Homo sapiens: one gene and its partners. The protein of the gene in region 2 purifies or fractionates together with the protein of the main gene of each other region. This does not show direct contact. Each region holds a gene or a part of one and is shown on either strand. Other genes may lie near its edges. The genes, in order: RAB4A, LAMP1 and TMEM192.

Region 1 (3,754 bases), on a different chromosome or scaffold from region 2:
TATTATTGATCTGCTAAGAATCAATGTTCTTGAATTCAGCCACTCTTATACAAGCCACAAGTAATGTTTTCAACAAAACCATTACAGATTCCCAAATTGTGATGTTCTCATTTTCACTTAAATGCTGGACTGTAAAAGAATAAATTACAATCTCCAGTTTAAATGGTCTTTATAATCTTTTTCTAGGAAGACTGAATAATTACTTTCCTAGAAATCTAAATTAAGAGCTTCCTGAAAACTTAATGAGTTGCGGGAAATAGAAACATGACATTTATTACTAGCCTGAACAATACCCAATTATCTCTCCTCCTCATTCTCCCTAAAGGCAAAGCCTGATTAAGAACCACCATGGTTTGGTTCTCCAGCAACTTTTATTGGCCAAAGGATGCAGAAGGATATATGGTGTCTGTGGTTTAATTAACAGGATCGTTTATAAAACAACTTTACATTTATCTTATTTTTAAAATTCTTGCTTTTGAATAAGCTGATGTGTTAGAATAGACATGCTCCTATCCCATGCAAAAAGCTGTTCAAAAATGAGCAGCTTGCAAATCTATCATAAATGAGACATTGAATAAAATATTCTTACAGTGAGGTCTAAGAAGTAGTTCAGTCTGAGAATTTGCTTCAGATACTTTTTGAAATAAAATATTCAAGGCATAAAAAAAGCAAAACTCAAAATATCTAAAACAGATACATACTGATATTTTTATCCTAGTCATTTCCCAGAGTTTTTATGTGTCTCTGTGCTCTGCTGATTAAAATAAACAACAAAAGCAGTAGGCATCTTCTAACTAAAAGTTAATTTACTAGTCTTCAACTAAAAAGTCACAGTGGAAGAACATATATAAGGTGAAGAAAGCTTTTTAACCTTTCAGATTTAAATAATACTGCATTTCAACTTTAAAGAAAGGTTCCACCATATATTTTTTGCACTGACATTTTAAAATACAAGAACAAGTCTTTGTAATACAATATATACTTCAATATACCCAATATACCTTATATGAATTAAAAACATGTCAACTGGATAACTGTAGTAAGGCATTTAAGTATTCAGCAGAAGCCATAAAGAAATTTCTTAATGAGTGGTGTCCATTTAATATTAACTGGATTTAGTAGGTTTCCTTAAAATGAACAGGAAACAAAAGATGTGAAAAACAGGCAGTGATGCCATTATACTGAATTCCAGAAAAAGCACAGTACAATGTGTTTTCTAGCAGGGAGACCAGCAAACTGGAAGTGGATGAGCGGCCCCAGCTTACATGGTCTATTGTATTTGATCAACTGCTGAGAGAAGTATTAGTAGCCCAGTAGGTTTGGGTAAAGGTACCAGAATCCTTAGTGCTAGTCTCACAGCCAAAAACAGAGCAGGTACTCCAGATATACTTCCTGAACTGACCTGGATGAAGAGGCTTTAAAATCAACAGAGCTGGACAGTATAAAGTTCACGGAAAAACTCAATTTTTCATTTTATTTTGGTATATTAGTGAATGTCTACTGATCTAGTATTTCAAGTGTGGATCACGTAAACACCATGTAGAATGTAGTAAACGGAGTTAAATAAGAAAACACACTGGCTATCAATGCCAGAGTCTTTGAATATCAGGTCATAAATATAACCAATTGTGCAATATAACCAACATGATGAGAAAAGCACACCTCACAATTGACAATTTTAGTTCATATGATTAAAAAAAATAAAATCTGAAACTGCATTTAGTGCCACATTCTATCATATCATACATCAGATTCCATGCTGTGGAGCCGCACTGGGCTACAGGACATACAGTACATATAGCATGTTTTAAACCGAAAGTGAAAGGAAAAATATGAAACAGAAAATTTTTACATACACATCTAACGGTGTTGTCCATTTAATTCGATTTATATGATTTGCTGTGCCACTTTGACTGGCTTGCAGAACACCCCAAATTCTCTTTTCCCCATAAAGATCTACTTCCATACAGAGTAGAAAAAGATGGTGGTAAAAAAAACTTCAGATTCTTCAGGTTCCAACGATTGTGTCCCAAATGCCACTGTATGAACACCTAAAAAATATTAAGAACAATTTCAAAATCTGCATAACTATAAATGCAAAAGTAAATACAGCTTAAAGCCTAAAAGAGAATTCGTGAATATCTTGTCTTTTAACACTTGCCTGTGCCTACTACATGATGTCGACTATAAATAAAACGTCCACTGTGGTAAATGGGAAAAAAGAAGAAGCTTTAAAAAGTTAAAGGGAGACATTTGTCAATTTTATAAATAGGCCTCCTGTTTTAGCAAAAGGCACATTCATTTAGACCTCAATCAATCCAGGAAGGGCTCCTCACTGACATAAGGAATCAGGATATCTCACCCTTCCCATCAACCACCACCTGCCCTTCCTTTCTTTCTGAACAAGAGCATAAGAATTTCCTATAGAGTATAAATTCTTTCAGTTAGAACATCCAACTTTAACTTATGGGTTCTTCTCCTTCTCTTTTTTTTTTTTCTGAGACAGTTCTCACTTTATCGCCCAGGCTGGAGTGCAGTGGTATGATCTTGGCTTACTGCAACCTCCGCCTCCCAGGCTCAAGCAATTCTCCTAAGTTTCATGAGTAGCTGGGACTACAGGTGCACGCCACCACGCCTGGCTAATTTTTTGTATTTTGTAGAGATGATGTTTCACCATGATGCCTAGGCTGGTCTCGAACTCCTGAACTAAAGCAACTGGCCCACCTCAGCCTCCCAAAGTGCTGGAATTAGAGCCACTGCACCCGGCTGGGATCCCCTCTTTTTCATACTGCAGCTTCCCAAAGCTTTAACAGGCCTCTGCACTTGAGCTTGCCAGGAACTCAGGGCAGGGAGGTGTCCAAACCCACCTGTGTGCTCTCCTAACAACCACACTCCTGAGCGTTCGGGGCCTGTGCGCGCCGCGGTGACCTCAGCTGTCTCAAGGCAGCATCTCCGTACTGAATACCTGAGCCCATTCTTTCTGGGTCCAGCTCACCTAAGGACCAAGCAAGTCTTCTTTTAAAAAAGGCTTTTATGTTTCTTTGATTCCAAAAATAGATTAAAAAAAAAAAAAGCAAAGTACAGAACACTGTGTATATATCCCACCATTCTGAATAAAGGGAAAAAACTATATATATGTTTGCTTGCACCGGCACAAAACATCTCTAGCAGGATACATAAGGAACGGCTGATTCGGAGGAGTTCTAGATGGCTGAGGACAGGAGGGGGTGGTAACAGGGGGACTTTTCATTGCATACTCTTTTATACTTCTTGAATTTCAAATTATGTGAATACATTATTTATATAAAATAATTTAAAATTAAATTACAAAGATATAATTTTTCACTTATTAGATGGGCCAAAAGTCCAAGTATGATGATACTACATGCTGTGGACATGGCTTTAGTGAAATAAGCCCATCACTAGGAGAAAATGTGACAGCCTCTACACCAAGATCCCAAATGCTTATGTTCTCTGACCCAGCAATTCCACTTCTGGGCATTTGTCTGACACACAGACTCATGCACATGTAAAAAAAAAAAAAAAATATATATATATATATATATATATATATATATATATATATATATATATATATAATTATTTACTGTAACATTACTTATAATAGCAAAATACTGGCAACAACCCAAATGTCCAAAGTAGACTGGCTCATGAATTATGGTAACACATAGGTTGAGCGGTCCTTATCCAAATATAGGTTGAGCAGTCCTTATCCAAAATACTTGAAACCAGA
Region 2 (3,088 bases):
TGAGAGATCAATAATATATAAAATGTGAGTGTGGGTTTGTATCTAATAAAGTATGCCAACACCTGTGTTTGTGATCAGTTTCTCAGCTGACTGGAAATTAACATAGTGAGTGGTCACTGAGGTCTTACAGCGGCAGTGTCAATATTCCATTCCTTTCTGTGACAGAGCGTGCAGTTTATGTGAGGCTTCTGCACGTAGTAGGTGATTTCTCTTTAGAAAGATCATTTTCTCCCTTCAACTTTTAACTTCTGGGTACAGGTGGAGGGTGTACAGGTCTGTTGCACAGGTAAACGTGTGCCGTGGTGATGTGCTGCACAGACCATCCTGTCACCTAGGTATGAAGCCAGCATCCCTTAGCTATTCTTCCTGATGCTCTCCCTGCCCCCGACCCAACGGGCCCCAGTGTGTGATGTTCCCCTCCTTGTGTCCATGTGTTCTCATCAGAAGCTCCCACTTACAAGTGAGAACAAGTGGTGTCTGGTTTTCTGCTCCTGTGTTAGTTTGCTGAGAATAATGGCTTCCAGCTCTATCCGTGTCCCTGCAGGGGACAAGATCTCATACCTCTTTATGGCTGCATAGTATTCCATGGTATCTGTATGAAAGGTAATTTTTTTAATGATTTAAAAATTATCATGTTACATGAATGAACCAGACAACTGTGCCAGGCACTCGGGCCACTCCCAACACCATTCCCTACGTCTGGCACCAAGACCACCCTCACCCCCCGTTTCCCTGACACCCTTCTCTCTGCACCGAGACCACCCTCAACCCCGTTTCCCTGACGTCCTTCTCTCATGAGCTCCCATTTTAGCTGACAGAAGGACAAGGCCCACCCCAAAAAGAAAGAGGCTTTTTATTACATTGTTACAGGCAATGCATTACGTGAGCTGGTCCCGTGTACAATCCCCAAGCCACGGCAAAACATCAGGAGAACGCACCGATCTCACATTGTACACAGCGCAGAACAGGATCACCCCGAATGTCAACAGAAGACCAAAAATCACTTTACAAATAAAAATAAAAATAACACCCATTTTTATATTTAAAAAAGTGCCAGCCCTTGAGCTGCAGACATTAGAGACGCCCAAGGACGTGCCGCCACTGGAACGAGGCCGCCAGCCACGTGTGGCCCGTCCTGGCCTTTAAAGCTGAACTGAAGCGCTCCAGACACTCATCTCTGGAGTTCCTCTGTCTTAGGATGTTCCCTCTCTACTGTTGTAATGTGTGAGCATGTCAGCCTCACCACGAGTGACCTTCATGCGTCCTACGTGTGACGGCCAGAGGCTTTCCCTTTGTAAGGCTTAAATCTGAGTGCAGTAAAGAATGAAGAAACCAAACACCAGAACCCTAAACTCAAATGATATGGAGCCAATTTAGAGCGGCACCCCCACCCCTCAGAGACAGCGGCATTCCACCCCTCGGAGAGAGCAGCACCCCCACCCCCTCAGAGAGAGCGGCACCCCCACCCCCTCAGAGAAAGCGGCACCCCCACCCCCTCAGAGAGAGCGGCACCCCCACCCCTCAGAGACAGCGGCACCCCCACCCCTCAGAGACAGCGGCACCCCCACCCCCTCAGAGAGAGCACCCCCACCCTCAAAATCCTACTTTGGTAAATATTAATGTTTAACCAGTTAGCAAAATATTTAACCCAGTTAGCAAAATTAACACCGTCATTTCGATAGTTACTCTGTTGTGCATAGTAAATGCTGCAAGATGAACTTCACATTGGATGAAGCAGATTTGAGAAACGTTTGCCAGAAAGTGTGCCTCCCCTTCGACAGGACCCTAAGCCCAGAGAAAGGAACAGAGGCCCCTGCAGCTGCTGTGCCTGCGTGCACCAGGCTAGATAGTCTGGTAGCCTGCGTGACTCCTCTTCCTGCCGACGAGGTAGGCGATGAGGACGATGAGGACCAGCCCCGCCAGGGCACCACCCACAGCGATGGGGATCAGCATGCTGTTCTCGTCCAGCAGACACTCCTCCACTGCCAAGACAGACGGATGGTGTCAGGGCTCTGCTCACACAGGGGCCTGCAAACAGGCCTCTCTCCCCACCACTCCCCCACATCAGCCAAAAGGCAAAGAGGAACCCTGGCGGAAGGTTCCAGCTCTAGCTGGAATTGTCACTTGGGGAAGCCGCTGCAGAGACTGGTGCTCTCTGCACGGCGAGGAAACCACACACGTCTCTCCCCCGTCTGGAATCAGGGGCTGTGGCCGGACAGCTGTGCTGCGTCCAGGGCCTCTGTGCACATCAGATGACAGTGTTGTATTCAACGTTCATGGGAGAAGCGCCACCACTGTTTCTTAAAATGATTCCCTTACTCTCAAATGGTACCAGGGGCTCCCAGCTGAGAGACACGCTGGGCCTCTCTAAAGCAGGGGGAGTTACCTCTAGAATCTCAGACCGGCAAGAAGAAACAGCTCCTTGCAGAGGAACAGGGGCGTCGCCCCAGCCCACACGGAAGCGACTAAACGTCCACAGGCGGAGTCTGAAGCACGTCCTCCACACCCCGCGACAGCTGCCCTCGGTGACACTCACCAGAGCCAAACTGGCCACCTTCCACCTTGAAAGCCTGGACCCACACTTTGAATATATTGACTGAAAACGCCTTCGTGACACGGACGTGCTCCTCCGCGTTGCACTTGTAGGAATTGCCGACTGTGGCCTGCAGCGCTCGCAGGGAGCCGTTGGCAGCTTTAAAGGCAGGGTCTGCAACACACACAGAGGTCTAGTGGCTCCAGAATACCCTGGGCGCGCGGGCGGGGGCGGGGCTCGCAGAGATTGTGGGTTCTCACCTCTGGCGTCAGGAAGAATTGTATTCAACTGGATTCCTTGTAGGAAAAACCGGCTAGAACTTGCATTCTTAAAAAGAAAAATGATCTTTAATCACGGAGCAGATTCATAGAAAGATGATCTTTAACCCCAGTAGATTCACACATTTATCATCAAACGTGAATGGTCATTGGGTAATAAACCTGACTTCCTACATTTCTAGTATTAGAACAAAACTGCAAAAGATCTTGTCTATAAAAGGCGTTGTGTATCTCTGGGGAATGAAAATTTTGGTTAGTTCCTTCCAGACCCTTCTCT
Region 3 (3,754 bases), on a different chromosome or scaffold from region 2:
TTTTTCTTAACAACTAGAATCTTCTGGTTGGGCGTGGTGGCTCCCGCCTGTAATCCCAGCACTTTGGGAGGCCAAGGCAGGCAGATCACTTGAGGTCAGGAGTTCGAGACCAGCCTGACCAACATGGAGAAACCCCATTTCTACTAAAAATACAAAATTAAGGCTGGGCGCAGTGGCTCACACCGGTAATTCCAGCACTTTGGGAGGCCGAGGCAGGCGGATCATGAGGTCAGGAGTTCGAGACCAGCCTGACCAACATGGAGAAACCCCGTCTCTACTAAAAATACAAAATAGCCAGGTGCAGTGAAGTGCACCTGTAATCCCAGCTACTCAGGAGGCTGAGGCAGGAGAATTGCTTGAACCCGGGAGGTGGAGGTTGCAGTGAGCCGAGATCGCACCACTGCACTCCAGCCTGGGTGACAGAGCGAGACTCTGTCTCAATAAATAAATAAATAAATAAATAAATCTTGAATACAAAACTCACATCTGGTAAACTCTTGAGTTCTTGAAGAATCAAACTTTGAATATGTGACAATCACAAATTTGAGATCTCAAAACATTCTCTAGGTTTCCTAAGGAAAATTGTTTCATTCGCAAACCAGGGAAGCCTATCTCTAATTCTTCTCCCTTCCTCTCTATCCAGTCTCACCTTTCACTCTACTACTCTACTGAAACTGTTCTTGGCAAGGTCACCAATAGCTTCCTTCCACATTGCTTAAATTGGAGATGAATGCATACGTCTCCTCTTTTAACTTATCAGCAACACTTGGCTCAGTTGATTGAGGGGGGGTCTGCCCCTCCACACCTGTGGGTATTTCTCGTCAGGTGGGACGAGAGACTGAGAAAAGAAATAAGACACAGAGACAAAGTATAAAGAAAGAACAGTGGGCCCAGGGGACCAGCACACCCAGCATGCGAGGACCTGCACCGGCGCCGGTCTCTTGAGTTCTGTTAGTATTTATTGATCATTATTTTTAATATCTTGACGAGGGGAGTGTAGCGGGGCAACAGGTGGGGAGAAGGTCAGCAGGGAAACGTGAGCAAAGGAATCTGTATCATGAATAAGTTCAAGGAAAGGTACTGTGTCCGGATGTGCATGTAGGCTAGATTTACGTTTCTCTTTACACAAACATTTCAGTGTAGCAAAGAGTAACAGAGCAGTATTGCTGCCAGCATATCTCGCCTCCAGCCACAGGGCAGTTTTCTCCTATCTCAGAATAGAACGAATGGGAATGGTCAGCTTTACACCGAGACATTCCATTCCCAGGGACGAGCAGGAGACAGAAGCCTTCCTCTTATCTCAACTGCAAAGAGGCCTCCCTCTTTCACTACTCCTCCTCAGCACAGACCCTTTACAGGTGTCGGGCTGGGGGATGGTAAGGCCTTTCCTTTCCCACGAGGCCGTATCTCAGGCTGTCTCAGTGGGAGGAAACCTTGGACAATACCCAGGCTTTCTTGGGCAGAGGTCCCTGCGGCTTTCCGCAGTGCATTGTGTCCCTGGTTAATCGAGAATGGAGAAAGGCGATGACTTTTACCAAGCATACCACCTGCAAACATATTGTTAACAAGGCACATCCTGCACAGCCCTAAATCCATTAAACTGATCCAATACAGCACATGTTTCTGTGAGCACAGGGTTGGGGCTAAAGTTATAGGTTAACAGCATCTCAAAGCAGAAACAATTTTTCTTAGTACAGATCAAAATGGAGTTTCTTATGTCTTCTTTTTCTACATAGACACAGTAACAATCTGATCTCTCTCTTTTCCCCACAGTTGATCACTTCCTCCTTGACTCTTTATTTCAGCTTGGCTTCCAGGACACTACATTCTCCTCATTTTCTTCTACTTCACTAGCTTCTTCTTTTGTCTGCTTTGCAAGTTGCTTTTTGTTGGTATTCTCCAGGGCTCAACCCCTGGGCCTCTTGGCTTCTCCATCAGCGTTCACTCTCTTGGTGGTCTCACACAATCTCATGACTTTGATAGAATTTATGAGCTGATAATTTCCAAATGTGAATCTTCAGCCAGGCCTTCCTCCCTGAACTCCAGACTTATGTGTCCAACTGCCCCTTCTAGATCACTACTTGGGTATATAAAAAAACACCTCAAACAGAACATGTCCCCAGCTGAGCTATCTGCCACAGTCTCTTCCACCCCTGTAATGGCAGCTCCTCTTTCTCTCAAACCCTATAGACAGTTAATCAGCAAATCCTGCTGGCTTTTCCTTTAAAACATACCCAGAGTCCAACCAATTCTTGGCACCCCCAATGCTACTTCCCCAGCCACTATAATCTTCACCTGGACTATTATAATAGTCTTTCGGTTTTTTGGTTTTGTTTTTTTTTTTTGGGGGAGGGAGTCTCGCTCTGTTGCCCAGGCTGGAGTGCAGTGGCGCGATCTGGGCTCACTGCAACCTCCGCCTCCCAGGTTCAAGTGATTCTCTTGCTTCAGCCTCCTGAGTAGCTGGGATTACCGGCACATACCACCACACCCAGCTAATTTTTTTATATTTTTAGTAGAAAGGGGGTTTCACCATGTTAGCCAGGCTGGTCTTGAACTCCGGACCTCAGGTCATCCACCCGCCTTGGCCTCCCAAAGTGCTGCAATTACAGGCATGAGTCACTGTGCCTGGCCCTATTATAATAGTGTTTTTCTTTTTCTTTTTCTTTCTTTCTTTTTTCTTGAGATGGAGTCTCACTCGTGTCGCACAGGCTGGAGTGCAGTGGCGCAGTCTCGGCTCACTACAACCTCCGCTGCCCAGGTTCAAGCAATTCTCCTTCCTCAGCCTCCTGAGTAGCTGGGATTATAGGTGTGCTTTTTTTATTTTTAGTAGAGACGAGGTTTCACCATGCTGACTAGGCTGGTCTGGAACTCCTGACCTCATGATCCTCCCTCCTTGGCCTCCCAAAGTACTGGGATTACAGGCATGAGCCACCACACCTGGCCTATAAGAGTCTTTTAAGTGATCTTTCTGCTTCTCACTACCTCTCCACCCTGACCCCCCAGCCCCATGCACACACACAAAAAGCAGCCAACAATATCCTTCTAAAACACTACTCTGATGGTTCCCTTTTTCATTCAGTAAAAGCCAAAGCCTGGACAGTGGCCTTCAGGGACCTAGAAAATCTCCACTTCCCACCCCACCCCACCTCCTCTCTCCTACTCTTCCTTTGTGTACCCTGCGTCGGTCACACTGTGGCTTTTGGATTGCTAAGCACATTCTTACCTGAGGACCTTTGCGGTTGCTGTTCCCTCTGCCTGGAAGGATCAACTCCCATATATCTTTTTCAAGTCTTTGTTCAAATGTCACTTGTGGCCAGGTGTGGTGGCTAACCCCTGTAATCCCAGCACTTTGGGAGGCTGAGGTGGGTGGATCACTTGAGGTCAGGAGTTGGGAGACCGGCCTGGCCAACACGATGAAACCCTGTCTCTACTGAAAATACAAAAATTAGCCAGGCGTGGTGGCACGTGTCTGTAATCCCAGCTATTCAGGAGGCTGAGGCAGGAGAATCACTTGAACCTGGGAGGTGGAGGTTGCAGTGAGCCAAGATCGCACAGCTGTACTCCAGCCTGGGTGACAAGAGTGAGAATCCGTCCCCCCCCCAAAAAAAAAAAATCCTCCCACTTCAGTCAGCCTCCTGAGTAGCTGGGATTATAGATGTGCACCACACCACCACACGTAACTTTTATTATAGTATATTGCTATAATTATTCTATTTTGTTATTAATGTTGTTACTCTCTGTGCCTAATTTATAA

Evidence for each region.
Region 1: the proteins of LAMP1 (region 2) and RAB4A purify together in Homo sapiens (affinity purification with mass spectrometry; 2 studies listed by BioGRID and IntAct, with this or other methods). This does not show direct contact.
Region 3: the proteins of LAMP1 (region 2) and TMEM192 purify together in Homo sapiens (affinity purification with mass spectrometry; 3 studies listed by BioGRID and IntAct, with this or other methods). This does not show direct contact.

Annotation. Positions count from the first base shown.
Region 1 is NC_000001.11:229,302,103-229,305,856, reverse strand, and holds part of RAB4A (ras-related protein Rab-4A), read right to left. Parts: intron 2,996-3,754; coding exon 2,880-2,995; 3' UTR 2,868-2,879; intron 2,052-2,867; 3' UTR 1-2,051. UniProt on the Homo sapiens protein: The small GTPases Rab are key regulators of intracellular membrane trafficking, from the formation of transport vesicles to their fusion with membranes.
Region 2 is NC_000013.11:113,321,176-113,324,263, reverse strand, and holds the end of LAMP1 (lysosome-associated membrane glycoprotein 1 precursor), read right to left. Parts: intron 2,861-3,088; coding exon 2,794-2,860; intron 2,708-2,793; coding exon 2,537-2,707; intron 1,983-2,536; coding exon 1,843-1,982; 3' UTR 592-1,842; downstream 1-591. UniProt on the Homo sapiens protein: Lysosomal membrane glycoprotein which plays an important role in lysosome biogenesis, lysosomal pH regulation, autophagy and cholesterol homeostasis.
Region 3 is NC_000004.12:165,071,150-165,074,903, reverse strand, and holds part of TMEM192 (transmembrane protein 192), read left to right. Parts: 3' UTR 1-3,754.